Regions from separate parts of the Homo sapiens genome. Here region 1 is linked to region 2. Evidence: fine-mapped expression QTL. A gene starts in region 2. The other region holds a variant in brackets. All regions are shown on one strand. Distances are from middle to middle. Region 1 overlaps AUH (AU RNA binding methylglutaconyl-CoA hydratase). Region 2 holds the start of AUH (AU RNA binding methylglutaconyl-CoA hydratase).

What was found. PIP is the estimated chance that this variant, and not a neighbour inherited with it, causes the effect.
Region 1: its variant is fine-mapped to the expression of AUH in whole blood (TOPMed, PIP 0.99).

The regions. Positions count from the first base shown.
Region 1 is chr9:91,288,844-91,304,507 of GRCh38, reverse strand. It overlaps AUH (AU RNA binding methylglutaconyl-CoA hydratase), which reads left to right. Exons shown (of 10, transcript NM_001698.3): 5 at 6,432-6,524; 6 at 8,431-8,487. Among named protein-coding and RNA genes, the nearest start is that of AUH, 65 kb to the left of the region's middle. The variant G/A (reference allele first, on the strand shown) is at 8,969.
Region 2 is chr9:91,352,260-91,367,923 of GRCh38, reverse strand. AUH (AU RNA binding methylglutaconyl-CoA hydratase) reads left to right here and starts at 6,006. Exons shown (of 10, transcript NM_001698.3): 1 at 6,006-6,296; 2 at 11,769-11,836; 3 at 11,954-12,041. The coding sequence starts at 6,035. RefSeq lists silencers at 2,891-3,091, 5,836-6,275.

The DNA.
Region 1 (15,664 bases), 63 kb after region 2:
ATCTGCAGCACTGCAGTGAGGCTGTCCTCATGCTGTTGCCACTCATGGTCTTACTCTGCATCACTCGCAGTATTAGGGAGGAGTTGGACCCTATTCCATGTTGCCCACATGCCTTTGGTTTTAGCTAAATCGAGGATTGATTACTTATTTTATGCTGTTTCTAGGCAGTTTTTCTCTTTTTTTCCTAGTAAAAAAGTAAATTTAGTCCTCTTTTCTGTGTGAATCCATACAGCCTGAAATTACTATGACAGGCTTGTATAAAAAAGCATGTGAGAGGGAATGCTAGCTTCCAGCAATTTGTTCTTGGTATAATGACCCTTTCTGTAAGGAATGTTGCTGCTCTTCATCTGTTAGTTTTTCTTCACAACAACTTGTAGAATTTTTCCATTTCATTTAGATTTTAACCTAGTGCTAGAATCGAAGTGTCATATTTAAATACTGTTACTTTTGGCTTTTGGATATGTGTTCCTTTTAAGGTCTGTGGTGCCTGAGACTTCTCACTTTGAACTCCCATCTCTCACCTGTGGTATTATGTTTGCAGCAATGACCCTGGTGTGGGCCTCCAGGGAGCAACAGCCCAGCCAGCCTGCAGGCCTCACTCAGGGCTTGTTTTGTTATTGTGATTTTTTTTAAACCTCAGTGATGGGAATGGGAGAATATACATTAGGATGAAGGTAAAGTTTTAGCCAAAATGAAAGATAATTAGGTATTTATTGTAATTTTCAGTTAACTTAGATTTTATTTCTATTCTTCTTGAAAGATTTTAGTATTCAGACTTCCAGCATAATGCTACATAGGGCCTTTCCCTTGAAATGCTTGATTTCACTGCTTTCTGTAGGAACACTATTCTTCAAGCAAAACCAAATTTAAAAATCCTGTGGGGCTGGGCGCAGTGGCTTACGCCTGTAATCCCAGCACTTTGGGAGGCCGAGGCGGGTGGATCACGAGGTCAGATTGAGACCATCCTGGCTAACACGGTGAAACCCTGTCTCTACTAAAAACACAAAAAATTAGCTGGGCGTAGTGGCGGGCACCAGTAGTCCCAGCTACTCGGGAGACTGAGGCAGGAGAATGGTGTGAACCCGGGAGGAGGAGCTTGCAGTGAGCCGAGATTGCGCCACTGCACTCTAGCCTGGGCGACAGAGCAAGAGACTCCGTTTCAAAAAAAAAAATCATGCGTCTGACACTAACATTTTCCTTTAATAATCAAATTGTTCATATTTTTCTAGAAGCATCAAATAACCTACATTATGTGTTGTATTTATCTGAGAATCGAAAGTAGATACTTTAATTTTCCCCACTTTCATAGTCCCTTGAGTCTAATTATCGTAGGCTGCAGGTCCTACAGACTACTGAAGTGAACCAGGGGCCTGCCTTACAGTTGCTTTTTTCCCTCTTAAAATAGCAAACTGTTTAATTGTTTGCTTTAATTATATTTTTAGGAGCATTTCAAAGGATTATTATCTTCTTTGTCATACCTGGCTCATTTCCTGGTACGAAACTGAAAATAGTATCTGATCCTATTGGTTGCATAACATACTGAGTCATAATTTCTTCCTCTTGCTGTTGGGAATAGCCATTGCTCGTTGGATTCGCAGTTCCTGTTTCATTTATTTGTGCTTATATACAACTGTCATTTTGCTATTCCTTTAGATCTTTGAAATTCATAATCTACCTTTCTAAAGGTGTATTTTATTGAGTTCCTGCTATGATTATTAACATTTTTTTTCCTTTTTTTTGAGACAGAGTCTCACTTTGTTGCCCAGGCTGGAATGCAGTGGCACGATCTCAGCTCACTGCAACCTCTGCCTCCAGGGTTCAAGCAATTCCCCTGCCTCACCTTCCCAGTAGCTGGGATTACAGGCACGCACCACCATGTCTGGCTAATTTTTTTGTTTGTTTGTTCGTTTGTTTTTTTGAGATGGAGTTTCACTCTTGTTGCCCAGGCTGGAGTGCAATGGCGCGATCTCAGCTCACTGCAACTTCCACTTCCTGGGTTCAAGCGATTCTCCTGCCTCAGCCTCTTGAGTAGCTGGGATTACAGTCATGTACCACCACGCCCAGCTAATTTTGTATTTTTAGTAGAGATGGGGTTTCTCTATGTTGGTCAGGCTGGTCTCAAACTCCTGGCCTCAGGTGATCTGTCTGCCTCAGCCTCCCAAAGTGCTGGGATTACAGGCGTGAGCCAATTTTTGTATTTTTAGTAGAGATGGGGTTTCACCATGTTGGCCAGGCTGGTCGCCAACTCCTGACCTTAAATGATCCACCTGCCTTGGACTCCCAAAGTGCTGGGATTACAGGCATGAGCCACACTGCACCCGGCCCCCTCTTTGATTATTAAGTGCTCCCAAGTAGAAGAAATACTAGATGTAAAGAAACCACATATATCAGACTGGCATGTGCTTTGAGATGATGCATACTTTCCTGGATAAAATTTACTACGACAGACATCTTTTAGGGAATAATTAGGATGATGTATAGCCTTAGAATTTATAATATTGTAAAATGACTAATATTTAATTACCCATTGAATACGAATTAAGCTGTTTTACTTAATTCTTTAGTTAGAAACATTTTATAGACAGCTTTCTACAAGGCTAATTTATGTTAATTAATAATTTAAAGTTCCAGTGCTTAACCTATTTAATAATATGAGAATTAGTATCCCATTTTTCTTGTTCTTTTTGTATGTGGAACCCAAATTTCTCATCATTTTGTGTTACGTATTTCTTACAAATTGTAAGGCATATGGTGCCTGAGACTTGCTCTTGGAGCTCCTGTCTTCCATCTGCAGGCCCTGGTCCTCACCTCTGGTATGTCTCTTGGCACCTAGGCTGGCTCTTTTTGCAGTGACCCTGGTGTGGGCCTGCACAAAAGGAAACAAGCCCTGGAATTGTTAAGCTTCTCAAGGGCACACAATTTTCATCCTCTTTAGAAACATAATTTCTCAAATTCTTTCTTAAAAAATCAAGACGAGGTCTCACCATGTTTCCCAGGCTGGTCTTGAATTCCTGGGCACAGGCAATCGTTCGTCCTTGGCCTCCCAGAATGCTGGGATTACAGGCATGAGTCACTGTACCTGGCTCAAATTCCTATTAGACTTAAAAATAGTTTTTATTAATTCCAAAAAGTATAAACTTATTGGAGAAATAAGAAAGATGCATTTATCACTCCAGAGATTCCAAGGGTTTTAAGAGCTGTGTGTCTGGAAACAGGGATGAAGACCAAATATGTATTTCATAATATCACGGCCTCCAGCAGCTACTTGCTGAGTGACTTCAGCACTTACGTAGCAGGGAGGGAGCACCCACTCTTTCTCTGCTTCTGCTCTCTCCATCTTAGAACTCTTGGCAATTTTTCTTTTCTTTAGCTCCATAGGACTGCATATGTTTATTTCTTTATTAAACAAAAGAAGTTAATAAAAAAAAGAAAAGTAGGCAAAATACCAGGATTAATATAATAAAGGAGGAAGAGGCAGTGAAAAACCGTGAGGTTTGTCCCAGATTAGTAAGAACGTTATTGAGTAGCATTGATGTGATGTTAATTTTTGTTTCATATGGGCTGTATGGTAATGAATGTTCTGATAGAAAAGGTTATGCACAGAGTGCCATGTAAGCATAGAGGAAGGGACATTTGAGCCTCGACAGACAAGTAGGGGCTAGCTAGGCATTCTAGGCAGAGCTGCACCTTGTATACAGATATTGAGTCTTGAATGGAGACTTTTGGAGCTGTTTTAAGTAGTTTGGGGCTGGAACAGAATATCTGAGGTTTTGGAAGAGATTAGGCAGGTGTGCAGAACTTAGTTCCAGGTGCCTTCCTGTGCCATGCTAAATGTTTACACCATTTCTATCCTGAAGGTAGAATAAATCATTGAACAGTTTTAAATAGGGGAATAGCATGACTGTGTTTACATTTTAGAAAGATTACCCTACAGGAAAGGTAGAAGATGCATAGAAGGGTGGCAGATTGCAGGTGAAGGAGATTAATTAGGTACTTCCTGCTGGTGAGAAATGATGGGACCCAGAACTTGGGTGGTAGAAAAGGGCATTGGCAAGGAGGACATCTGGGATGACTTCTGAGTGTCTTGAGTAACTTGATGAATGGAGGTGCTACTAACTGAAATACAGCCTAGAAGAAGGATTGAGAAGAAATGGTTTGGACACATGAAGTATTTAAGTGGGTATGTCCAACAGGCAGGGGGCTGTTTGGGTTTGAGGTAGAGATCTGGAAATCATTGGTGGTAGTATAGGTGGTAAAAGTTGTGGATGAGAATGAGATCTCCTGGGAAGAGCTTTTATTGAGAGGGGAAGAAGGCTGAGAAATTACCAGAGGTAGATGGAAAGGCAGGAAAAATGAGGGACCCAGCAGGCAGTGAAGGGAGGAATACAAGGAGGGAGTGTCCAGGATGGATGTCTCTGATCTTTTGAGGCAGTACATTTAATAGGTACTGAATATTGTCCACTGGCTATAGGACAATCTTATAATGTCATTGGTAACTGGAACAAGAATGGTCTTGCTTGTTTGGAGGTGAATGGGTATGGTGGCATGGGTTTACTCTACTCCTCTTAGAAGCTGGTCTGTAAAGGAGGTGAGCTGGAGGGCCTTAGCAAGGCCTAAGGAAGGCTTCTGACGGGTGAGACTTGAGGTTGGAGAGATAGTAGGTTGAGGAGGTCTAGAAATAAATGATCTCTAGACAGGTTTTTAGGAAGGAAGAGGAGTTGAGAGTCGGTAACCAAAGTCATTACATTCTACTTGTAGTAGCTCAGGATGACCTTGGGAAGGACTCAGTTTAACTTGCTGTTTTATATTTTTATTGATTTTTCTTTTCTTTTTTCCAGATAAAATTCACTAGATATTGTTTGCACATTAAACTCATTTCCAGACTGCAAACCCTGACATAGCTGTTATTTTTTTCACTAAGTGTTCTGGAAAGCACATTTTGAATTTGTCCTGTCCTTTCAAGTCCCTCCCCACCCCCAACCCCTAAATGTTCAGACAGGTACAGATAGTGAAATACTGCCTGTGCAAAAGCCCCTTCCACGCCTGCTCTTCTGGGAGTGCTTCAGGCGGCAGCTGTGTATATGTGCTCCTTCCTGGCCTTTTCAGACTTGATCTTCAATAAGTGATGAATTCCTTTATTTATGAATAAAACTCAGTGTACTTCAGCAAATTTGTATATTTTAAAAGGAGTCAAGGAGTGAGCCTCTGGGGGATTTTACATATCAGAATGGAAGAGAGAGATTTTGGGGGATAGTACCTTTTTATTGTTTTTGTTTGTTTGTTTGTTTTTTGAGACAGTCTCACTCTGTCACCCAGGCTGGAGTGCAATGGCACGATCTTGGCTCACTGCAATCTCTGCCTCCTGGGTTTACGCGATTCTCCTGCCTCAGCCTCTTTGAGTAGCTTGGATTACAGGCACCCGCCATCATGCCTGGCTAATTTTTGTATTTTTGTAGAGATGAGGTTTCACCATGTTGGCCAGGCTGGTCTTGAACTCCTGACCTCAGGTGATCCTCCCACCTCGGCCTCCCAAAGTGCTGGGATTACAGGCGTGAGCCACAGCGCCCGGCCGATATTACCTTTTTAAAATCCACTTTCTGTTATATATTAACATTGGCCAGCCTTGCTTCACATTCCCATAGTCAGAAATAAAATTAATAGAGTTCTGCTTTTCAGAATAACTAATAAAACCAGTCACTTTTTGAACTGGTTATGAAAATGAAATCTGTATGTCATAATTTACAAAAGTTGTATTAAAATAATACTCAATTTCTGGATTCAAGCAAGTTGAGCTTTTAGTTCTGTGACTGGCTGACCCCTTTCCAGGCATGCTTGTGAGCAGGTTCTCAGGGCATCTTGCCTCTGAAGTGGAAGAGCCTGATTGTTTTCCAGCTCCCATTCATAATGTTAGGGCTCCTCACTAAATGACAGCTCACGGGCCAATGCCACAGCAACTACTTGGACAGTTTCTTTCTTGTTTGAGCAGATGTCTTTCTTTGAATGAGACTCTGTCATTCCAAGCACTGAAGTAGCCCATAAAGGATCATAAATTTCACAATTATGTATAAGTCATTTCAATTTGAACTTTGTATGAACCAAACATCTTGTGAAAGACTTCTGGCTCTAAGATTAAGAAATCGTAGAACTGTGATTCTGTTAATTCAACAAAAAATGTTTATGAAAGTAATTCAATAATATGGGAAGATTTAAAGATATTGCACATACATGTGATGGAACACTATACAGTAATTATATAATGTTTTGAAGAATAATGATGGAAATGCTTATATTTTGTTAAAGGTAAAAGGGATACAAAAGTCTGTATATGATCTCCCATTTAAAGCATAAATTCACAGAAAAAAATTAAAAATGAATTACACAGTGAGATAATAATCTTATTAAGGAAGCATAAAATTTTCTTTCCATTTCAGCTAATCTTCCAGTACCAACAATTGCAGCAATAGATGGACTCGCTTTAGGTGGTGGTCTTGAACTGGCTTTAGCCTGTGATATACGAGTAGCAGGTAAGAATTAATCCTGTTAAAAACATAATTTAAAAAAGTGAAGGTTGTGTTTACTCTTCAGGTAATTTTAAATATTTTATTCTGCTTCCTGTTGTTGAGTAGAATATTTTCAAAAAGTCACTTGTTGGTCCTAATGGTGTTTTCGAAATTCCCACCTGAAAAAAGTCTTGTGTTGTTTCTTGCCAGGATTTGGGTCAGGTAGAACTGAGTTTGAATCTTAGGTCCTGGACCAGGCGCGTGGCTTGCACCTCTAATCCCAGCACTTTGGGAGGCTGAGGTGGGAGGATCACTTGAGCCTGGGAGTTTGAGGCTGCAGTGAGCCATGATCGTGCCATTACACTCCAGCTCAGGTGACAGAGGGAGACCCTGTTTAAAAAAAAAAAAATTAAAAAGGAAAGAAAAAAAGGAAAAGAATCTGAGGTCCTCCCTTTTTTAGGCCAATATCTTCCTCTTTAGAGGAAATGGGGGAAATGACTGTTGCTGTTGTGAAGATTAAGCAATTAATCTGTGGATGTTAATCTAAGTACTAAATCACCATTTGCTACAGTAATGATAACTGAATCTCCTTGAAGTCCACTTTCTTCCTGAATGGTTTTCTGAGGATCTTATGAGGTGAATAGAAAAAGAGTGAAAAGAATTAGTGCCCACTGCTTACTGTGTGCAGTCCAGGCACCCAGTGTTATTCTAGCACTTGACATGTATTCACTCACTCCATCTGCATAACAACCCTCAGAGCAGGTACTTTGGGGCACTGGAGGAAACTGGAGAAGGGAGAGAAGCCCCAAAGAAGTGACTGAACTGAGATTTGAACCCAGACTGTTTGGCCACAGCCCACACACCTGTTACCTCATGAGAGCAACGTAGACTGATCTCCCATATTCATCGTTGTGGACACTATATCCATAGAGACTCAGCTCTGCCTGTGTCCTCGGGCTCTGAGACTGAGAACTGGGCACAGCAGACGGCACAGAGTTGTCACTGTTCTTCTCTTGCTTTCCATTATCGTTTCTGATGTGGCTGCATGTTAAAAGCAGAGCTGCCAAGGCAGAAGGATTGATTGAGGCCAGGAGTTCAAGACTAGCCTGGGCAGCATAAGGAGACCTCATCTTTATAAAAGATTTTTTAAATTTTTAGAACAATGTAGCGTCAACATGATTCAGTTTCTTGGGATTTCTGGTTGCTAGTCCATGTGTCCTTTTTCCTCCTTTTCACTTCATTTTAGGAACCTATTTTCTTGTAATGAAATCATTGGATTTTAAATTGAAAAGCTAAGGTACATGTAATCCATTTCTGAAAGAATACAGGTTTTGGAAATTAGAATATGGGAAGTAGTCTAAGTATATTTGGATATGCAAATAAAGAAGTTATTAAGATGTTTTAAAGTAGCCATGAAAACAGACATGAAAAGAGGAACCCTGTCCACCTGTCAGAATAGTAAAACTATTTGTCAGAAGGTAACTAAAGACTTGGTCTTGAAAAGTTGCCATATCTGATATGACCTATTAAGCTCTTTGGTCTGGGGGACTATATTCAGGCAACTGAAGAATTTGGGCTTGTCAGATACTGACAAGTCTGCTGATCCTGAATAATTAATAGATCTATGCCTCCAAATATGTCTTGGCAATATTGGGTCTAATAATGGAGTTACAGTCCTGGTCTTGTGAATCAAAAATTAATTCACTGCCAAGCAGTTTTTAACAGAAAATGTTGTGGGACTCTCCTAATACATGTCATTTAGAGTGCTTACTTATTTCCATAACAATGCCTTTTAAGTGATTTTTTTTAAGAATTTGTGATATCAATTTAATTAGTAAACAATATTTTAGTATATCTCATAACTTTTTCAAGTTGTCATATTTGAATGTGATGATATGGATGATACTTAATTTTCTTTCTTTCGTTTTAGCTTCCTCTGCAAAAATGGGCCTGGTTGAAACAAAATTGGCGATTATTCCTGGTGGAGGTATGAGTAGTTCACGCCCATTCCTCAAATCCTTGATTTGGTCCTAGAAACAGGGCATAAGGCAAAATCATGTTAATTGGAAAGGCAACATTTTGCGTAAAGAGACAATGGCATATTGTTTGCATCCCTAGCAAAGTCCCCATTCAAGTTACAGGCATACCTAACAGATTTTCCCCACCGCAATGAAACAAATACTGCGATAGAGCAAGCCACACAAATTTTTTGGTTTCCCAGTGCATATAAAAGTTATGTTTACACTATCTGCAGTCTGTTAAGCATGCAGTACCATTATGTCTAAAAACACAATGTACATATCTTAATTTAAAAATACTTTATTGCTAAATTTTCTAATGGTCACCTGAGCCTTCAAAGAATCATAATCTTTTTGCTGGTAGAGGGTTTTGCCTTGATGTTGAGGCTGCTGACTGATTAGAGTGGCGGTTGCTGGAGTGTGGAGGTGCTGTGCCAATTTCCAAGGACA[G/A]CAGTGCAGTTTGCCACATCAGTTGACTCTTCCTTTCACAAGAGATTTCTCTGTAGCATGCGCTGCTGTTTGATAGCATTTTACTCATAATTCTTTCAAAATTGGAATCAATCCTCAAACCCTGCCACTGCTTTATCAACTAAGTTTATGTAATACTCTAAATCCTTTGTTGTCATTTCTGCAGTGTTCACAGCATCTTTATCAGGAGTAGATTCCATCTCAAGAAACTGTTTTCTTTATTTGTCCATGTATTAGTCTGTTCTCATGCAGCTAATAAAGACATATGCGAGACTGGGTAATTTATAAAGGAAAGAGGTTTAATGGACTCACAGTTCTACATGGCTGGGGAGTCCTCACAGTCATGACAGAAGGCAAAGGAAGAGCAAAGGCATGTCTTACGTAGAGGCAGTCCAGAGAGAATGAAAGCCAAGGGAAAAGGGAAACCCCTTATTAAAAAAAGCATGAGATTTCCTGAGACTTATTCACCACGACGAGAATAGTATGGGGGAAACCCGCCTCCATGGTTCAGTGATCTCTCACCATATCCCTCCCACAACATGTGGGAATTATGGGAGCTACAATTCAGGATGAGATTTGGGTGGGGACACAGCCAAACCAGATCAATCCACAAGAAGCAACTCCCCATCCATTCCAGTTTTATAATGAGACTTCAGAAATTCAGTCACGTCTTCAGGTTACTCTTCTAATTCTATTTCTCTTGCTCTTTCCACCACATCTGTAGTGACTTCCTCCACTGAAGTCTTGAATCCCTCCAAGTCATCCATGAAGATTGGAATCATCATCTTCCAAACTCCTGTTAATATTGATATTCTGGCCTCTTCCCATGAATCATGAATGTTCTTAAAGGGATCTAGAATGGCAGATCCTTTCCAGAAGGTTTTCAATTTAATTTGCCCAGATCCATAAGAGGAATCACTGTCTATGGCAGCTATAGCCTTATGAAATGTGGTTTTTGTTTTGTTTTGTTTTTTTGAGACGGAGTCTCGCTCTGTTGCCAGGTTGGAGTGCAGTGGTGTGATCTCGGCTCACTGCAACCCCTGCCTCCCCGGTTCAAGGGATTCTCCTGCCTCAGCCTCCTGAGTAGCTGGGACTACAGGTGCACACCACCGTGCCCAGCTAATTTTTGTATTTTTTGTAGAGACGGAGTTTCACCATGTTGGCCAGGATGGTCTTGATCTCTTGACCTCATGATCTGCCTGCCTCAAGCTCCCAAAGTGCTGGGATTACAGGCGTGAGCCACCACGCCCAGCCTGAAATGTGTGTCTTAAATAATAAGACTTGAAAGTAGACTGATCCATGGGCTGTGGAATGGCTGTTATGTTATCAGGCATGAAAACAACATTCATCTCCTTGTCTGTCTCTGTCAGAGCTCTTGGGTAACCAGGACATTGTCACTGAACAGTAATATTTTGAAAGAACTCTTTTTTTTGAGCAGTAGGTCTCAGCAGTGGGCTTTAGTATTCAGTAAACTATGCTGGAAACCAGATGCACTGTCATCCAGGTTTTATTTGTTCCATTTATAAAGCATAAGCAGAGTTAACTTAGCATAGTTCTTAAGGGCTCTAGAAGTTTGGGAATGATAAGTGAGCAGTGGCTTTAACTAAAAGCCACCAGCTGCATTAGTCCCTAACAAGGGAGTCAGTCTGTCCTTTGAAGCTTTGAAGCCAGGCATTGACTTCTCTTCTGTAGCTATGAAAGTCCTGGATAACATCTTCTTCTAATAGTAGGCTGTTTTGTCTACACTGAAGATGTGTTATTCAGTGTAGGCACCTTCATCAGTGATCTTAGCTAGATCTTCTGGATAATTTGCTGCAGCTTCTACATCAGCACGTGCTGCTTCACCTTGTACTTCTGTGTTACGGTAGATGGCTTCTTTCCTTAACCATGAAGTAGCCTCTGCTAGCTTCCAACTTTTCTTCTGCAGCTTCTTCACTTGTCTCAGACTTAACTCTAGAATTAAAGAGAGTTAAGAGTTATAGTTAAAGAGAGTTAGGGCTTTGCTCTGGATTAGGCTTTGGCTTAGGGGAATGTTGTGGCTAGTTTGATCTTCTTTACGGACCACTAAAACTTTCTGCATATCAGCAATAAGGCTATTCTGCTTTCTTCTTATTCCTGTGTTCACTGGAGTAGCACTTCTAATTACCTTCAAGAAACGTTGCTTTGCATTGGCAACTAAGCCTAAGTGGTGCAAGAGGCCTAGCTTTTGGCTGATCTCAGCTTTTGACATGCCTTCCTCACTAAGCTTAATCATTTCTAGTTTTTGATTTCCAGTGAGAGACGTGTGGATCTTTGCTCTACTTGAACACTGCAGAAGTCACTGGAAGGTTATTCATTGGCCTAATTTCAATACTGTTTTGTCTCAGGGAATAGAGAGACCCAAGGAAAGGGAGAGAGATGGGGGAACAGCCCGTTGGTTGAGCCGTCAGAATACATGCATTTATTGGTTAAGTTTGCCATCCTATGTGGGCGTGGTTCATGGTGCCCCAAAATAATTACAGTAGTAACAACAAAGATTAATGATCACAGGTTACCATAAGAGATACAATAATGAAAAGGTTTGAAATATTGTGAAAATTACCAAAATATGGCACAGAGACATGAAGTAAGCACATACTGTTGGAAAAATGGTGCCAATAGACTTGCTTGATGCAGGGTTACCATTAATTTGTAAAAATGTAGTATCTGTGAAGTACAATAAAGGGAAGCACGACAAAATGAGGTATGCCTGTATGCCCTATTTTTAGCTTACGTAGACAGTGAAGATGGTAGTTCTTAAGTTTTAAGTTACTGTGCTAATTACATTTTTGTCACTGTTTGGATCTATTTTCCTAAAGGATTACACAAATATTTTAAAGCTTTTATGCGTGCATTTAAATGTGTGTGTCCTCACCAACAGCTTCATGCAGACAGTGAAACCCCAAGTGGAAGAAGAAGAGAGGTGCCTGGGTGCGGTGTCTTATGCCTGTAATCCTAGCACTTTGGGAGGCCGAGGCGGGTGGATCACTTGAGGTCAGGAGTTTGAGACCAGCCTGGCCAACCTGGTGAAACCCCGTCTCTACTAAAAATAGAAGAATTAGCCAGTCATGGTGGTGCGTGCTTGTAATCACAGCTACCTGGGAGGCTGAGGCAGGAGAATTGCTTGAACCCAGATGGTGGAAATTGCAGTGAGCCGAGATCACACCACCGCACTCCAGCAGCCTGGGTGACAGAGCGAGACTCCGTCTCAAAAAAAAAAAAAAAAAAAAGAGGGTTCCCAGGCTTTGTACCACCTTTCTTGTGTTTCTCTGCAGTGGGACAAAAGTTGCGGTTAGTGGGTAGCCTGAACTTAGAGCTGAAGAGGTGTTGTTTCTTCTATTCCTATGAAAAAAATAGATGAGCTTCTGTTCTTGAAAGAGCCGTTTAAGAAAACATCTTTCCAAAATTGATAATGAAATCTTGCATCACCCAATAAATCTGAAATTTTTGGTCTTTTGATTCAGAGAATTTGGAGGCATTCCCATTTTGTGAAGTCATTCTTTCAAAAAGTAGACTTCATTTAAGGATATGCATGTTATAGTAACCTTCCTTGGAACTTTTTTTTTTTTTTTTTTTTTTTTGACACGGAGTCTCACTCTGTCGCCAGACTGGAGTGCAATGGCACAATCTTGGCTCATGGTACCTTTTATGTATGCTAAATGATGCTTAGAGTATGAATGAAACAACAGTAACAATGTAAATATTAAACTCAGTGTTGAACATGGAAGACATACTTGCATATGAATTGGTTAAAATTGTGTGGTTAACCTTATCATTAAAAGAGTATTTATTCTGATAGGTAGAAATTTAAAACATAGGTTACAGTGAAATTGAAGACTGCCCAGATGAATGTGTAAGACTCCCCATGTTTTCTACTTTGGTAATTGATGAAAATGTTATTCTTGTAGGCCAAAACATTTAATATATACTTACTCTATTATGCCTGCCTTTTTCACTGTGACTAATAAAAAACACCAGAAGGATTTATAAGACAGTGGATCAATTTAAAAAGAATTCCCAGATAACTAATATGTGAAATAAAGCAAAATTTAGCAAAAGGGTGATGTGACATATTTCTGAAATTCTTTTGAGAAGTAAGCATTTGTTGGTAATGAGGATGTGATTAATCCTAGAAGATAGAAAGATAGTGGCTGTAGTGGGTTGGATGGCATGCCGCCTCCACCCCCACCCCCCCAACAGACACCAAGAGATGTCAGCCTGGAAGGAAAAGCATCTTGCACGTGTAATTAAGGATCTCAAGATGAGATCATCCTGAATTATCTGAGAGAGGCTTAAATCCAAAGACAAGGGGTCCTTATAAGAAAGAGGAAGGCACAGAAGAAGAGAAGGTGATGCGAAGACAGAAACAGAGTGCAGTAATACATCTACATGCCAAGGAATGCCAAGGGTTGTCGGCAGCCACGGGAAGCCATGGGTGAGAGGCATGGAACAGATTTTCTCACAGAGCCTCTCGAAGGAACCACACTACAAACACCTTGATTTTGGATTTCTGGCCTCCAAAACTGAGAGAGAATAAATTTCAGTTGTTCAGAGGTACCAGGTTTATGGCAATTTGTTATAGCAATGAATACAGCGACTTTTTGGTGATGTTTACATGATTTTTGGGGACAGATGGGGGTTAGTAGGTGGCAGAAATTTGGGGAGGGAGCAAGATGAACTTGGTAATTTGGATATTTACTGTGACTTGATTATGAAAAGTTTTGTGTTACAACTACCAGAAGATAGAGAGCAGTGTTTGGTTTGATTAGATGAGAAAAGATAGATTATGCTATAACAACCTCTTCTGTCTTGTCTTGTGAACTCACTGTGCCATACCATATGAGGTCTAGAAACTAGAATTTTTTCCCAATATACTTAAGTTCTTTAGAGTCCTCTGCAATAGTGGCTGCATTAATTAGAACCTACTTTTTGTAGGTTTGATTGAATTTGGACTACATATTCTGACAAATAGAATTATTTTTCTAGTTTCTATTAAATAAATTTGTCATAAAAGTCAGAATGCTTTGACATATTCCCATGTACTTACAAAGGATGGTTGTCTTTTTCTTTTCTTTCTTTTTTTTGTTTGGAGACAGGGTCTTGCTTGGTCACCCAGGCTAAAGGACAGCGATGTAATGATAGCTCACTGCAGCCTCAAACTCTTGGGTTCGAGATCTTCCCACCTCGGCCTCTGGAGTAGCTGGGACTATAGGCACACAGCACTGCACTCGGCTAATTTTCTTCTCTTTTTGTAGAGGCAGGGTCTCACTATGTTGCCCAAGCTGGTCTTGAACTTCTGGCCTCAAGCAATCCTCCTGCCTTGGCTTCCCAAAGTGCTGGGATTACAGGCATGAGCCACTGCCTCTGACCTCTTTTGTCCTAAGTGAGTTTGAGGAATGTATTTTAGTTCCTCTTTTAATACCATGAAGCTTTCAAGTTCATAGCTCATAAAATGTTATGTAGCTTTGAATTTTTTAATGTAAATGAAAATCAGATTCATTTTCGTTATTAATAAAAATTTCAATAGTATTCACATTTAGATAAGAGATGCACAGAATTTTTGGTCTACTTTTAAATTAATATTACAGTTCTTAAAGTACCCTAGGTGATGCCTGTTCTTTTGAAACAGCAGAGATTTTATTTTAAAAATACGTTTTTGTGTTTATTACCTAAAGGAGCTATTCTGAAATTTTTATGTAGAAAAATCTTCTTCTGCTCCATCCACAGAAGATTTTTTATCCATAGATATTTTTGCCATCTCCTTTCTCCTCTTTCCTTTGTTGTAGATGATATGAAAAGACTGCTTTTTTCAAAAATTGTGTTTTTAAATTGGTGAATTTTGCCATGCCTAAAGTGATCTCTGAGATATCCTCCTTTTGGGTATAAACATTTCTGTTAAATGTTGTAAAGAGCTTTCTATAATAGACACAGTAGACTGTATTTAATTTTTTTCTCCCTTCTTGGTAGATCTCTTTTGGTTAAAAGAAAATGCGTCACTTGCCTCCTATTATAGAAGCTTGTATGAGCAGCCAGGGGTGCACTCTGCAGGGAAGGCTTGGCCATTGCCAGTGAGCCTTGCTCCACTGTAGCTGCCTTAGCTCTTCCTCTTTTCCAGATGAGCAGGTGCTGACAGCCAAAAAAATAGAAAATAAGTGGGGAGAATTCAAATATGGGGAAAATATTGTGGAAAAAATAGATGCTTAATTTTTCTTCTTAATATTATGTAGAAAGTAAATATCTTTGGGTAAAATACATGAATTGTAGCCACTCTAGAAAACAGATGTTTAAAATCTGGCAAATAATCTTCTGCTAAGTTATTACAGGTCCATGATTTCATACTGGCCAGCATTTGTAAGTTAATCCAAATGAAATTGTATCTCCTTATTTGAATTTACTGTACATTTGATAAAGACAAGAGAATTAATGTGATGCTATTGATTGTCATATCATCACTTCTGGCCTTTTCTGATAGCAGTTCACAGCAAAACAATTTGTCAAAAAATAGTGTTTTGTTTTGTTTTGTTTTCTTTACCTGAGCTTTGACCTGCGTAGCAATATGTTGATTTTTAAGGTATGTTTTGTAAATTAAAAAAATGCTATTATAAAATAATGACTTTGAAGAGATGGTAATATTTCTATTGAACATATTAATGGACCACT
Region 2 (15,664 bases):
AATAAACTTAGGACATCCTTATCATCCCCAAAAGATGCCATGTACCTTTTTGATCTCATCCCCTAGTCTCCCCATCCCTCTCATCCTGAGATGACGAAGGTTTGTATTTTCAGGACATGGCACATGTGTTTGCATATTTGCATGTATGCACGTATACACAATCAGCAACTATGGAATTGTCAGGGGGAAGAAGCAGTATCTGGGAAATCGTGACCATGCAGGATCCAACGCAGTGGGTGAAATTTCCAAATGAAATGATAATAGAAGGGCTTGATAAAACTCCCTACTGATTGGGGTCAGAGTAGTGGTGGAGAAGATGAAGCCCTTACAATCAATTAGGAAAAGCAAACAAAAGAAAGTCATGATTAAGAACTCAGGTTTTTGGAGTGGAGTGTTTGAGTTCCAGTTCCAGCTTTGTTATTTATTAGCTATGTAACTTTCAGTAATTTATGCCTCTCTTTACTTGTCTGTATAATGTCTACTCTTCTCCAGAGGTCATGGAGCTCATAGGCACACATGGTTGCTACCTAAAATGAGACCTACAATACCTTGGTGGGGGTGGATTGCAGTGTCTGGTCAAGGAGTCTCTGCAGGGCAGAGTGAGAGAGGGTGTCTTCAAACATACCTTTTCTCTGGGGGTAGTGTCCTTGGGTAAGGCTTACTGGATCCCTTCAAGGCTCTAGAGATTGGATTTTCTGGATTTGACATCCAATCCCTCCTTTTGGAGGTAAGTACTCAGACTAGATGGGAAAAGACCTTCTGGAGTGAAAGGCCACCATGGGGCTTATGATATCGTGATATACTAAGAAAAAGATATTTGGTCCTTGCCTTAGTCCATTTTGCATTGCTATAAAAGAATACCTGAGGCTGGGTAGTTTCTAAAGAAAGGAGGTTTGTTTGCCTCACAGTTCTGCTGGATGTAGAAGAAGTAGAAGCAGGTCAGGAGATTAGTGGGTGTAGTACTCTGAATACTCCAGCTTTTCCACTCTTTCACTCTTGCCATTTCTTCCTTTTTTTTTTAATTATTATTTTTTTCAGTGGCAGAGTCTTGCTATGTTGCCCAGATTGACCTTGAACTCCTGGGCTCAAGCAATCCTCCTGCTTCAACCTCCCAATGCACACCACCACACCTGGCTATACTCTTCTCATTTCAAACAACAAGCCCTACCCGCCTTTTCCCAAACTGATACTCATTATTCCTGTTTCATACTTGACAATCTTTCATTGAAAAGTAGAAATTCCAGAGGTCATGACATTTTATTGAGTACCTTAACATTTATTGAAAGGCTGTTCTAACTAGTGATTAAGAATATGGGCTTTGGCTGGGCCCACTGGCTCACACATATAATCCAGCGCTTTGGGAGGCTGAGGCAGAAGGACGGCTTGAGCCTAAGTTCAAAACCAGCTTGGGTAACATAGTGACACCCTTGTTTCTAGTAAAAAAAAAAAAAAATTAAAAGATTTTTAAAAAAGAAAAAGAACATGAGCTTTGGAGTCAGATGTATCAGTATTTGAATTCCAGCTCCATGGCTTCCCAGATGCAGTCTTTGGTAAGTAACTTAATCTCAGTTTCCTCATCTATAAAAATGGGGGTAGTAATACCAACTTGAAAGTTTCCTGAACATTAAATAAGACAGCGAAATGCCTTCTTAAATAGACTAAGAAGGAAGTTGGTAAATGGTAGCTAATATTTCCACGCTGCTCTATTTCTTTCTTGGTGCCAAGTGTTTTACATACTTATCAACCCAATAAATGGGCATAATTATTCTCATTTTATAGGTGAAGGAATTGAAGATAATTCAGTGGGGCATGGTGGCTCATGACTGTAATCTCAGCACTTTGGGAGGCTGAGGCAGATGGATCACCTGACGTCAGGAGTTCGAGATAAGCCTGGCCAACGTGACAAAACCTTGTTTCTACAAAAAGAAAAAACAAAATTAGCTGGGCATGATGGTGCCTGCCCATAGTCCCAGCTACTCGGGAGGCTGAGGCAGGAGAATCACTTGAACCCAGAAGGTGAGACCACGCCACTGCCCTCCAGCCTGGGTGACAGAGTGAGACTCTGTCTGAAAAAAGAAAAAAAAAGAATTCATAAAGTGAAATAGATATATTAGCTATACTGCAGATGAAGAAGAGGAAGCATGAAGTATTTAAATAACTCACTGATGTCTCAAAGTGGAGCAATTATAGAGCAGGGATCCAAAGCCATGTCTATTTGGTTTGGAATTTGTTAAATTCCTGATATTTGGCAATTTGCTGTTAGTTGTCATGCTTGACAGGTTGTGATAGTCATGGTGATGTTTATTAGTTGCATTAATTTTTAAGAATCAACTTTGGTCACAGACCTGAGATACGTGCATGACTATTGCAAATAAGGACGAGAGTCCCAAATGTTAGGGAAGGGGATAGTCCTCTATGTTGCATTTTTTCCATCAGGCTCTATGCCTTTAGAAACAATGGGTGGTCCTTTGTTTTCTTCTATAACCCAAACAATCTATGATTATCTTTCTGCAGCTGTCCTAGTCAATTATCAGTATTATCTGAAGTTATATTATTTTAAATAGCACTGTCAGGAGCTCTGTATAACTGCTTTCTCTAAATTTACCATCTATTGATGAACCGACATAAAGATATCAAAACAACTGGAGACCAATATTAATAAACAGTAATTATATAATTGCAATAATTGCAATGGTTGATCTGTAAATACAATTGTGAGTTTCCTAGTGTTACGGAACCTTTGAGGTGTCGATTTCCTGGCCAGAAACCTCTGTGGCTGGTGGCACCTTTGCCAGAGTTCTTGTCCTGGGTCCAGGAAGAATGAGGTATGCAGACAAGTGGAGGGTGAACAAGACAAAGAGAAGCTTTATTGAGCATTAAAACAGCTCGGAGGAGACCCGCAGTGGGTAGCTCCTCTCTGTAGGCAGGGTGTCCTGAAGTCTGCCCAGCTCCTAGGAGAGAGGAGGCCCTGGAGAGGGTAGCTCCTCTCTGCAGCTGGTTGTCCTAACATCTGCCCAGCTCCTAGCAGAGAGGAGGCCCTGGAGAGGGTCACTCCTCTCTGAAGCTGGTAGTTCTGACATCTCTGCAAGTCTCTGAAGCTCTCAGCTGAGAGGGTAGCTCCTCTCTGCAGCTGGTTGTCCCATCATCTGCTCAGCTCTGGCTGAGTTGGGGATTTTATGGGCCTCAGAGGGGAGCAAGTGCCTGCCGCTGATTGGTCCATGGGCAGCCATGGGCAGGCTCGGAAAAGGCACCACAAGTTCCCACTCTGGTTCATGGGGCTGGCAGCCCAACCCCCAGCCTTCAGGCCCTCCTTGGCCAGAAGCTGGGGCCTCACTGGGGACCCACCCCCTTCTGCCCAGGAGTCTGTCTGCCTCCCACTGCCATTCATGGTGCCTGGGTTCAGCCTCAACTTTGCTCCAAGAATGGAGCAGGTGCCAACAGCAGGGAGAAGCCAGGCAGCAGGAGCAGGCATTTCTGAGCCTGTGAGGGCATGCAGGGCCTTCCTGGGCCCCCAAGAGTGCAGGGATGCCTGGGGCTGCAGCCGTGGTTTGGGTGGCTACAGCTGCCCTCGGGGAGGGCAGGGCTCCTGCCTGCTCCTGGCCCCCTAAGAGCACAGGGAGGCTCAGATCTGCAGCCACACCTTGGGTGGTGCTTCTGCCTGCTCTGTGGAGCAGGAGGCCCCAGTCTGCAGCTGTGCTGCAGAGGCAACCAGGGAGTTCCCACCCCAACTCAGAAGGGGTGGGTCTCCCGCTTGTCCCTGGCTCCCGCCAGAGAGCGTGCAGCCCTGGCCATGCCTCCCTGCTGCAGCAGTAGGCCGTCTGGAGCAGCCGCTGCCATCTCTAGTACAGTAATTCTCATAATTTTATTTTGCCTTGGTATCCATTTTGAATATGTTTAACTTTCTCATATGAGAAGCAGGGCTCAATCACCTTTGATACAGTTTCCAGTTCTCTGCTTCCTCCCAGTTCTTCAATGTGATCCATCCAGATATCTGCTTAATGCAACTGCTTCCTGGTGACCATCTCCCTATGGGACAGGTAAATGCAGCCTGCTTGACTCACCTGTTGACCTCCATAACCCACATGGACTGTGTAGATGGGCTCCAGTGACCACCTCACAGTGACAGGGTGACTCCATGGAACTTGTGCCTGCTTGTTCTAAACTCACCAATTAGAACTTCCATGGGAAACTGCTTGGGTAACACGCTGGACCCCAACAGAGGCTTTAGCTCCACAAGTGCCCCTTCCTTGACCCCCTTCCACTGGCTGAACTCCCTGTCACCTCCAGATTTACCCTCCCTCTGGTGACCACAAGACCAAATTAGAAAGAAACCATAACAATAAAAATCACAACACCCAGCAGTCAACATGTACATCATTATCAGAAAAGAGGAAAGATACAAAGGAAGCAAAGTTTTCCTTGTAGTAAACTTCAGGAAAATTTTCCTGCATGGAACTTTACAAAAGATAGAATAAAAAGTGGGCTGTGCATGGTGGCTCACACCTGTAATCCCAGCATTCTGGGAGGTCAAGTTGGGTGGATCACTTGATGTCAGGTGTTCAAGACCAGCCTGGCCAACATAGAAACACCCATCTCTACTAAAAATACAAAAATTACCCAGGTGTGGTGGTGTGTGCCTGTGATCCCAGCTACTCAGGAGGCTGAGGTGGGAGGATCATTTGAGCCTGAGATGCAGAGGTTGCAGCGAGAGGCGATCACACCACTGCACTCCAGCCTGGCCGACAGAGCCAGAACCTGTCAAAAAATAAAAAATAAAAATAAAAATAAAAGTGCCTTCAACATCATTTTACAGCAGATGCAGTAATGGAATTCAGTCTACTTTTTGTTTCTACATTGGATAAAAGTTGAGGACATAATGAAGGATGTTTTGCTTAGGACTAAAAAATACAAGAAATTTCTGTGGCACTAGACGTATGCTCATAGCAGCACACTTTTCAAACAGTATTCTTTTTTTTTTTTTTTTTTTTTTTTGAGACAGAGTTTCACTCTTGTTGCCTGGACTGGAGTGCAATGGTGCAGTCTCAGCTCAGGGCAACCTCCGCCTCCCGGGTTCAAGCAATTCTCCTGTCTCAGCCTCCCGAGTAGCTGGGATTACAGGCGTGTGCCGCCACACCTGGCTAATTTTGTATTTTTAGTAGAGACAGGGTTTCACCACGTTGGCCCGGCTGGTCTCAAACTCCTGACCTCAGGTGATCCACCTGCCTCGGCCTCCCAAAGTGCTTGGATTACAGGCGTGAGCCACCGCCCCCTGCCCAGTATTCTTAAATGCAAGCTTTCCCATTAGAGATCTGATAAAAGCTAGGTAGCATTAATTATACTGCAACGTGCTTTGATGAGTACCTACACACTAAATTGATATCCCGAGTTTCTGGAAGAGCTACATACTCTAAATCCCATCTCAGCGTATGGCTTGTTTGAACCCCTGTAAGACTCTTTCCGTCCAGGAAGGGCCATGGGACATCGGTACGAGTGGGTGGGCTGGAGAAAGAACTCCTTTGCCTGTTTGCTGTTCTCATCCTTTTCCTGAACGCCACGTAGTAAACATCATTTATGCTTATCAGGGACGCTAAACCAACAACCTGAGATCCATAAGTAAGGCAGTGACCAACGATGGGCTGCCACACTTTCAGCCAACTTGAGGAGACAAAACTTTTTTGTTCACTTTTGCAGCTTACTTAACACAGGACCGCAGGGCATGGTCCAGGGAGTACGGGGAGATAATTCCCTCCGGGTGGTTCTTATAGAAAAGTCTTCCCTGAATTATTCCATAACCTTGGAAAACTACTTTCTTTCCTTTTGTATTGGACAAACCATCCAATCTCGCTTGGAGAATGGGGCAAGGCCTCGGGTCACCGGGCTTCGGCGGGGCAGTGAGGGGCGGGAACACGGCTCCGGAGGGCGGGGCCAAGCCGGAGCGAGGCGGCGGGTCCGGACGCCGTGCGCGTGCGCGCGGCAGGTCGGCGCCGGGCGGGGGCGGAGCGGCCGTCGCAGGTCCACGCCGTAAACAGACAACATGGCGGCCGCGGTGGCGGCGGCACCTGGGGCCTTGGGATCCCTGCATGCTGGCGGCGCCCGCCTGGTGGCCGCTTGCAGTGCGTGGCTCTGCCCGGGGTTGAGGCTGCCCGGCTCGTTGGCAGGCCGGCGAGCGGGCCCGGCGATCTGGGCCCAGGGCTGGGTACCTGCGGCCGGGGGTCCCGCCCCGAAAAGGGGCTACAGCTCTGAGATGAAGACGGAGGACGAGCTGCGGGTGCGGCACCTGGAGGAGGAGAACCGAGGTGAGGTGCGAACGCTGGGCAGGCGCGGGGCAGCGGGCGGCCGCTCGCTCTCAGGACGGGCATAAGGTGCAGCGTCCGCCGGCAGGACGCGGGGTCGAGGTCAGGCAGGCGCACCGAACCTGGGTCCCTCCCCTTTCTCACCTCCCTACTCACCCAGCGTGGCCGCTTCCTTGTGCACCTATTTCTTGCTTTTAATAACCTAAACGTGTACCCCCGAGCAGCTTACCTGTAAAGTGACCGCATTCAGCGCGGCAAACAGAAGTGCAGCTTACGCCCTCCGCTCCAGACAAGCCAAGGTCAATATATACCCTGGGGATTTAATCCTTGCTACCAGGCTTTATTGTTGCTGTGTAATGGCTTTCTGTAAACTCAGCTATTAGTGGTGGAGTTGTAAAAGCTGCGGTGAAACTGCCTTTTATTATTACGGAGAATCTTAAATTTGAAGCTGCTCAGCTGGAACAATTTTTCCTCTTGTTCATTTTCTCTTAGAAAGTTAGTCTTGAGGGACTGTTCCACTTCATTTAAACAATTTTGAGCACTTTTTATTTTCCTCAGCTCTGGCGATAAGAATGTGGATGGTATGGATCTTGCCCTTGAGCTACCTTCTACGGGAGGAGACATCATTAGCAATACAATACAGAGCTTTGAAGGCTTTGAAGGAGGCTGACAATCCTAGGGAATACTGTTACAGCTCAGTTCCTTTCACTGGCAGTGCAGGGAAAAGCTAAAAGGGTCGTGAAGGGTGGAATAGCAGTTTCCACCCTTAACCTCCGGGTTAAGCCAGAGGACCAGTGTTTTAATTTTGACATGCATTTGTTGAGCACCTATAATCTGTTAAGCAGAAGTGAAAAGCGTGTAAGTCGTGATTGGTTTTAGTGTAGTGAAGCAGATCCTGGTTATTAGTAGGCTGTGTGAACTTTCAAGGCATGGTAAGAGGAAAGGGCTGTAATACCTGCAGGGTTTCGCCATTTGAAAGGGGTTCCAAGGCATTCTTTAATAGGCAGTGGATTTTGCCATTTGTGAGGGTTCTTGGGCAGACTTATCTCACGTGTAAAACAGGAAAAACAATACCAACTTTATAGGTTTGTTATGAAGATGAGATGAGATTGTTAATGTAAATTGCCACTAGCACGTAGCAGTGCTTCAGGAGTGTGATGAATGACTTTATTCCTTACTTATTATTCCAGACAGAGACAAGAACATGGTCAAAGGCATGGAGATGTGAACATGTGTGGTGTATTTGGGACGTAACATAAGGCAAGTGTGGCATAAGCAGAATAGTAAGAAATTCAGCTGGAAGCATAGACTAGCACTGGAGTGATTAGAGCCTGAATGCCATCATCTTTTGGGTAAGCTTAGTCATGCCGGGACTTCACTTCCGTTAAGTGTACCAACAATATGTTAGATATAAAGGGATTGCAAGTACAGCTACTAATATGCACCATATTCTATTTTTTTGGTCGTTATGACTTGAATGCAATTAAAGGAATATTTGTGCAGAATGTCTGGACAGACTTTAAGTTAGGATCTGAATGGACAGAAGAGAGAATATCAGATAATAAAAGATAATAAACGAAAATTTTTTTGGGTATCATGGTTTCTTTTTTTTTTTTTCTTTAGCCTTGATTTCCTGATGAGATAGGACATACATCATGGTTTCTTAAAGTTGACCCCGCCTCCTTTGAGAATTGGCAAGAATGACGACTCAGGCTTGGCTAACATTACCTAGGCTTTGCTTTGCTTTACTGTTGAACCAGCAATAAGCAGTGCAAAGAAAAACATGAGGTCAAGGGTACTACAGGTGAAGGAGTTTCCTGGGTGCCTTTATTTCTCTTAGAGGTGGGTCCAAAATTTGGTGCTCTCAGCAGCCTCTAAGGAATAGGATAACTCTCCTAGTCACAGGAGCCTCAAACAGCATGCAGCACTTTAGGTGGGTGGGGGTAAGTAGTGCAGAATACACCAGGTCTCATCTGTTATCTGGGCTCCATATTTGTAATTTGTTGTAGGAGGCATAGCTCTATAACCAAATTTCCTTTTCTTTTCTTTTTTTTTCTTTTGAGATGGAGACTGCCCAGGACTTTGAGGCTGCAGTGAGCTATGATGGAGCCACTGCACTCCAGTCTGGGTGACACAACAAGACCTTGTCTCTTAAAAAAAAAGAAAAAATGTATGAACCTATTTATGTAGAATAGCTCCAACAGAACATATGATCCATTTATGTAAAATAGCAACAACAAGCCAAATGGTAATATACAACTCTATTTCTGTATGTAGATACGTTGAACATTTTCTGGAAGGTTACATTACATGTAACTGTGATAACTGTGGCTTCTTCTGGGGAAGGGAATGAGCTGGTTCTAGGGAAGGAGGACTTTCACTTTGAGTGTATTTTTTCATTTTGTATAAGCAGAACGTATTTTGTTTTGTTTTTAAAGTCTCAGCAAAGTTGTTACATTCATCTTTCAGTTGTGTGAGCTTTATAGAGCAGGATTCATGCTGTGATGTGACCTTGTTACAGATTCACTGAAGATTTTTGTATGTTTTGTGAAAAGTCAGGAAAATTAAGGTTGGCATGTGAACGCCTAAGCTTTTCTGAGTTTGGTAAACTTTCTAGGTTATGTGAGGAGGATGCATGATAATTGAGTTCTTGAGAAGTGATTGAATTGTGAATTAAAGTGAGACAGTTATAAAAAAAAACTTTTAGACTTTGCTGAATAAAGCTAAGGTTTTATTCCATTTTAGAATACCAAAAGCCTACAGATACATTTGATGGTACAGTTGTTACATATTAGATAATTCATTTCAGATTGCAGAGCTAATTTCTAGCTTTTTGAAGTGGAAGTACTCAAAACATCAAGTCTCAGATATGGGACCAAAATTGCTGGAATTAACTGTGTTAGAAACATTTTGATGGCACTTTACCCTTCAGTAATAATGTCAGCATTATCATATCTAGCAGAAATTATGGTGAAACTTTTAATACTTACTGCATGAGAGGTGTTCATGCTAGAAGGGAGGTTAATTGGGTCCTCATGTTGTAAATTTTACATGTATCATATCATTCGATTCTAATACAGTCCCATGGAGTGTGGAACTGTTAGTATCTTAATAGAGTAAGAAACTGAGGATCAGAGAGGTTAAGTAACTTGCCGAATTCTTAATAGAGTAAGAAACTGAGGATCACAGAGGTTAAGTAACTTGCCGAATAGCTAGTAAGCGGCAGACTGGGATTTCATCCCCAGCAATCACACCTTAGAGCCTGCATTCTTAGCCCTTGGACGTTGTATCAACTTGGATGTCTGAAAGGCACTTCAGATTCACTTTAATTAAAAACAGAAACTCATGAGCTTTACTCCCCTCCACCCTCACCTTGGTAGTTTTATGATTTTGTCTCATTAAATGTCATCTTTCATCCAATTGGTGAAGCCAGAAACCTGGTAAATACTCCTTAACACTTTCTTCCAGTTAAATCAGTCCTCAGTCTAGGCATCATTAACTCATTTAAAATTTTTGAATAGTTCTTGAATCCTTTCACTTTCCTTTATTTTTACCACCACCAATCTCAGCCAAACCTGTTATCTGTTGATTGGACTCGAATTGTGTCTTGAAGCTCCCACCCCTGTCTACTTCTGGTATGATCTCCAAGTATAGAAACTATTCCCCCGCCAGTTTTATATGTGCATGTGTATATGTTTATACCTACGTAAACTCCTTCAATGGTTATTAGGATGAAGACCAGACTTTTTAGAAGGTCTGTAAGGATATTTCTGGCTTGTGCTGACCTCTTTACTTTCATTGGTCACTCTCTTCTCCCCCTCGTAGGTTACAGGACATTCAGTGGGACCATGACTAGTTTATGCTTTTCCTGTTTCCTCTGCCTGGCAGTCAGCCCCTCTCCTTCACTCTCACCTTGACTCCTACTTATCCTTCTAACCTTCACTGTCTGGGGTAAGCTTTCCCTAACCATCTCCTTTTGCCCCAGACCATTATCAATTCTGGTTACAAGTTACTGTAGCACCACTTACAGCTTGTAAAGCAGTTTGAATGGATTATTAATGATATTTATGATTATTAATGATTTCTATGATTATTAATGTTTGTATTTCCCTCCTAGACTCTAGTTCCATGGCTGCTGATCACTATAGTACGTACTCAGTATGTTTGAATGAATGGACACATCTAGTCTTAGCTGCTTGATTTTCTTCCTGAGGAAACTGAAGCTTGAACAGTGTAACACAGTTTTATTCAAGTATAGAGTTAGATTACCACTTAATAGCTGAAGGAAGTTACTTCACCTCTCCAAGTCTCCATTTCTTTATCCGTTAACTATTGATAAAAGTAGTGCCCACCTCTTGGGTTGTGGTGGGGATTACATGAGTTAATTCGCTTAAAGCACCTGGAGCAGTGCCTGAGGCCTACTGGTGGTAGCTGTTGTCAGTAGTATTGGGACCTACCCAAAGTCATTCAGCTGTTTAATACAGATCCTGTCAGATAGCAGTCCTTTATGCTTTTCTCTGTACTGAGAGCATTTGGAATTCTTGCAAATTTACTCTTGTGAGCAGAAGTTCATCTTTATACTTTAAAGAATGGGTCTGCACAGTTTCTTGCACAGCGAAGGCATGTGTACATTTTGTTGTCTTCAGTTTAGCTCAGTTGCAAATAAGAAACATACCCACCCTGACTCAGTGGAAGGTATTTCTGATACACTGTGAAAATTTGTCTACTCCAAGAACAAGAAGGTTAGTAGAGGTTGTGTAGAACTTTGAATATCAAATTAGGATCTTTGAAGTTGGATATTTTGAAATAAATAATGAAAGGATTTTAAGTAGGGGATGCATTCTATGCATAGTACTGTTTTTAGAAAATTGGTAACTGGAAGGAATGGGAGGCTGGGTTTAGGTGATGGTCTTTGATTAAAAAGTGGGGCAGTTAGGAGTGACAGCTGGGTTTGTGGGAGAGATAATGAACTTTGTTTTGTATAGGTTGAGTTGGAAGTACTTCTTGGACATCTAAATGGAAGTGCCCTCAGGTTAAGTATATCAGACAGAAATCAGGAGAGAAGCTTGGGATAGAATTACTGAAAACTGTGTAGTATGAACAACAAAAAAATGGAGATATTAACAACTGGTCCTAGAAAAAGCAGATGCTATAATACCTGCATGTGACAAGGTTTATTAGCGGTTACTTTGGTATCTACTTGAAGATGATGAAACCACATTTTAAATAGTATCCTTTAACTTAAAATTTTCACTAATAAGTCTAGTCTTCCCTCTAGTTTGAGTTAGTGATGTAAAATTTACCAAAATGTTGCAAATTATCTTGGTGCTTAAGAAGAGATCGATTGAAGGGAACGTGATGTCATGAATTTCTTTGATTTGTTAAGTTCGAAGCTAGCTAGATGTGTGATGTAGAGTCTGTTCTCTGAATGCCTTGCTCACTCAAGTGCTTGTACTTTTTTTCCCCTTTAACTAGGAATTGTGGTGCTTGGAATAAACAGAGCTTATGGCAAAAATTCACTCAGTAAAAATCTTATAAAAATGGTGAGTGTAAAGATTAAACTGTTTGCTTCTAATATTAAGATATATTATTGTCATCAATGTAAAAATGTTTTGTTTTTTTTTTCTCTTTTTCCTCCTATGCTTCCTATTTCTGTTTAGCTATCAAAAGCTGTGGATGCTTTGAAATCTGATAAGAAAGTACGGACCATAATAATCAGGAGTGAAGTCCCAGGGATATTCTGTGCTGGTATGTAAATATGTTGTATTATGAAATTAAACTGTAGTCTGATTTTTCCTCAATAGTAATCTGTTTTCCATTAGAATGTTCTTTGGTTTGAACCCCATTACCAACAACTCCTCTTTGTCTGTGTTTTACTGATTCACAAGAAAAAAACATGCTTAGTCTGTCAGCATTAGAAAGAAGCTTTTGCAACATTTAGATTGTTTTGGAAGTTGAAAAAAAATCTTTGAGCCATTAAAATACTTGTTTGTAGTACCTGTAGTACATGTAGTACAATGTTGTTTGTTGTGTCTTAATTGTGGCCAATATTCTTTAGTTTCATTCTTTTTTTTTTTTTGAGATAGAGTCTTGCTCTGTCACCCAGGCTGCAGTGGCGTGATCTTCGCTTACTGCAACCCTCGTCTCCCCAGTTCAAGTGATTCTCCCGCCTCAGCCCCCCGAGTAGCTGGGATTACAGGCGCCTGCCACCTCGCCTAGCTAATTTTTGTATTTTGAGTAGAGACAGGATTTCACCATGTTGGCCAGGCTGGTCTCGAACTGCTGACCTCAAGTGACCCACCATCTTTGGCCTTCCAAAGTGCTGGGATTACAGGGGTGAGCCACTGTGCCTGGCCCCTAGTTTCATTCTTAAGGATTCTCAATTTTTTAAAGCTTCAATCTCTGTGGCTTCTGCCTTAAAATATTGCAGAATAGTGTGATATTTAGAAATATGCAGTGTATTTTGGCTTTTGATAAGGTTTTATTGCCTCCTTAATACATTTCTTAAAATGTAGGATACCGAAAAGAATTAGTTTTAATTCCAGTTGAGTAACCAAAGAGTGTAGGTTTATTACTCCCAGCTGCTAGGGTTATGGTGTTATGCAGTACAGATTTCTGTTTTCACATTTGTCAAATGTGAGTAATACTGTCTGCTTAGTAGGAGTGCTTATAAGGGTTTTATGTATATTTTGAGTTCTTTGTTTTTTTAAACAATGTGAAAGACTTATATCAAGAGAATTAGGATTCTTATGTCTAGATCATATTCACCAGGTGAATATGATCTTGAGGTAAAGGAGTATAACACATGACTGATGGTTGAGAGGTTCTCTAAAGGTCATTGGATGGCTTATTGGGAAGATACAGAGTAGCTTTAGGGTTTTTAAAGAAGGCCCAATTATATGAATTTTTGAGGAGTGATATCAATGTTGTGAAGACAGATTAACATTTTAAAAATAAGTGTTAGTGGTCATCCCGGCATTGTTTTTCTGTTGGCAGTAGGTTTTATAATTATTGCACTATAGTTACTGGTGGAATTCTTTTTATTTTACATATTCTTTTGCAGCCCATTTGTTCTAGATTTCTGCATTAGGAATATACTTTGAAAAAAGCTTTAATGCTTTAGCACAGTTTGTGGATGTCTGTTACAGATTGCCTTTTTGAGGACATGCAAAATGTCCTCAAATAATATACCACATGCTGTTTATTAGAATAACATGTTAGCCTTGAGTACTTTTTAACAAGTTAATTTAATCTATTTACTTTGCTTTATGTGCTTTTAAACTTTCGTACAATCAGGATAATCTTTTAACTCAAGATTTGTGACTGTATTTTGTCAACAAAAGTCAGTGTCTTAATTATAGAAAAATTGGGGCATATCATTCTCTTTTAGTAATTCAGTGTATATGATGGAACTGTTCTTTCAGATTTCTCCGAAAGGTTTTCCTTTCTTGTTTTTTTTTTTGAGACGGACTTTCACGCTTGTTGCCCAGGCTGGAGTGCAGTGCCACGATCTTGGCTCACTGCAGCCTCTGCCTCCTGGGTTCAAGTGATTCTCCTGCCTCACCCTCCCGTGTAGCTGGGATTACAGATGCCCGCCACCACGCCTGGCTAAATTTTTGTATTTTTGCTAGAGACGGGGTTTCAACATGTTGGCCAGGCTGGTCTTGAATTCCTGACCTCAGGTGATCCACCTGCCTCGGCATCCCAAAGGGCTGGAATTACAGGCCACACATGGCCTCTTTTTTACATGTATTTACATTTATAAGCTGACCAGTAGGTCTGTCTTTTTTTTTTTTTTTTTTTTTTTTTTGAGACGGAGTCTTGCTCTGTCACCCAGGCTGGAGTGCAGTGGCACGATCTCGGCTCCTGGGTTCACCCCATTCTCCTGCCTCAGCCTCCCGAGTAGCTGGAACTACAGGCGCCCGCCACCAAGCCCGGCTAATTTTTATATTTTTAGTAGAGACAGGGTTTCACTGTATTAGCCAGGATGGTCTCGATCTCCTGACCTCGTGATCCGCTCACCTCGGCCTCCCAAAGAGGTCTGTCTTTTAACATGTACATATGAAATAAAATTATAGGTAAATAAAATCTCTTTACATTATTTAAAGAATATTTAAACTTACAGCCTATATTAGTATAAACATCTTAATCAGGCCACATTTATCAGTTATTGTTGAGGAATGTGGTCTTTCACATAATTAAAGCTTTAATTTGTACTCCAAAGTAGTAATATTAAAAGAAACCTCTGCTGGGCGCGGTGGCTCATGCCTGTAATTCCAGCACTTTGGAAGTCGAGGTGGGTGGATCACAAGGTCAAGAATTCGAGACCAGCCTGGCCAACATAGTGAAACCCTGTCTCTACTAAAAATACAAAAAATTTTCTGGGCGTGGTAGTAGGTGCCTGTAATCCCAGCTACTCAGGAGGCCGAGGCAGGATAATTGCTTGAACCTGGGAGGCAGAGGTTGCAGTGAGCCGAGATGACGCCACCTCATTCCAGCCCGGGTGACAGTGTGAGACTCCGGCTCAAAAAAAAAAGAAACCTCAAAAACACAGTGTACCGTTTATTGATTATCCTTTTAGCCTCTTCTCCATCCCTTGAAAGTCATCATTTTCCCTCTTCTTTTTCTTCTCCCACAAAGGTTTCTCTGTATATATTAATACTGTATTCCAGTGATACCTTGCTCATTTCTAAATATTTAAAGCTTAGCAAATGGTCTTGCCTCAAATTTCTTGAGCATAGGAACTCCTCTTATTCTTTGAGAATCATCTTTTACATTCTCAGAACACAGCAAACAACAGGGACTCAGCATTTATTTGCTGGAATTAATCAGCCTTTAAACTGTGCTTTAATTCACTGATTTTTTTCAGGAATGGTTGGGATATAATAAGCAGCTTCTCTGAATTGTCTCATACCACTCTCCTATTTACTGATAGTAAATTTGGCTACATCTTTTTTCTAAAATGCTAGGAAAACAGATAAACATTAAAGAGATTCCTACATTGCATTGGAGGTTGGGCCAAGTGATTTCTGACTTCTCAGAAATCTATTATTTAGCATTATTAAGTACTTCACTTACATTTTAAGTTTTTTAATCAATTTTTAGTTTAAAAAAGTAGCATGGTAGGTCAAAATGTATGAAAATGTATACAGAGAGAACTCTCTCTAACCCTACTTCCTCTACTTTATTCATCCCCTAATATAAATAATTATTATTTTTGTCCTAGTATTTTACTTTATTTTATATATATGTATATATATACACAAATACAGTCATGTGCTCCATAACAACATTTTGGTTAACAGTAGCCTGCATTATACAATGCTGGTCCCATAAGATTATTTGTTTTTATTTTTTTGAGACGGGGTCTC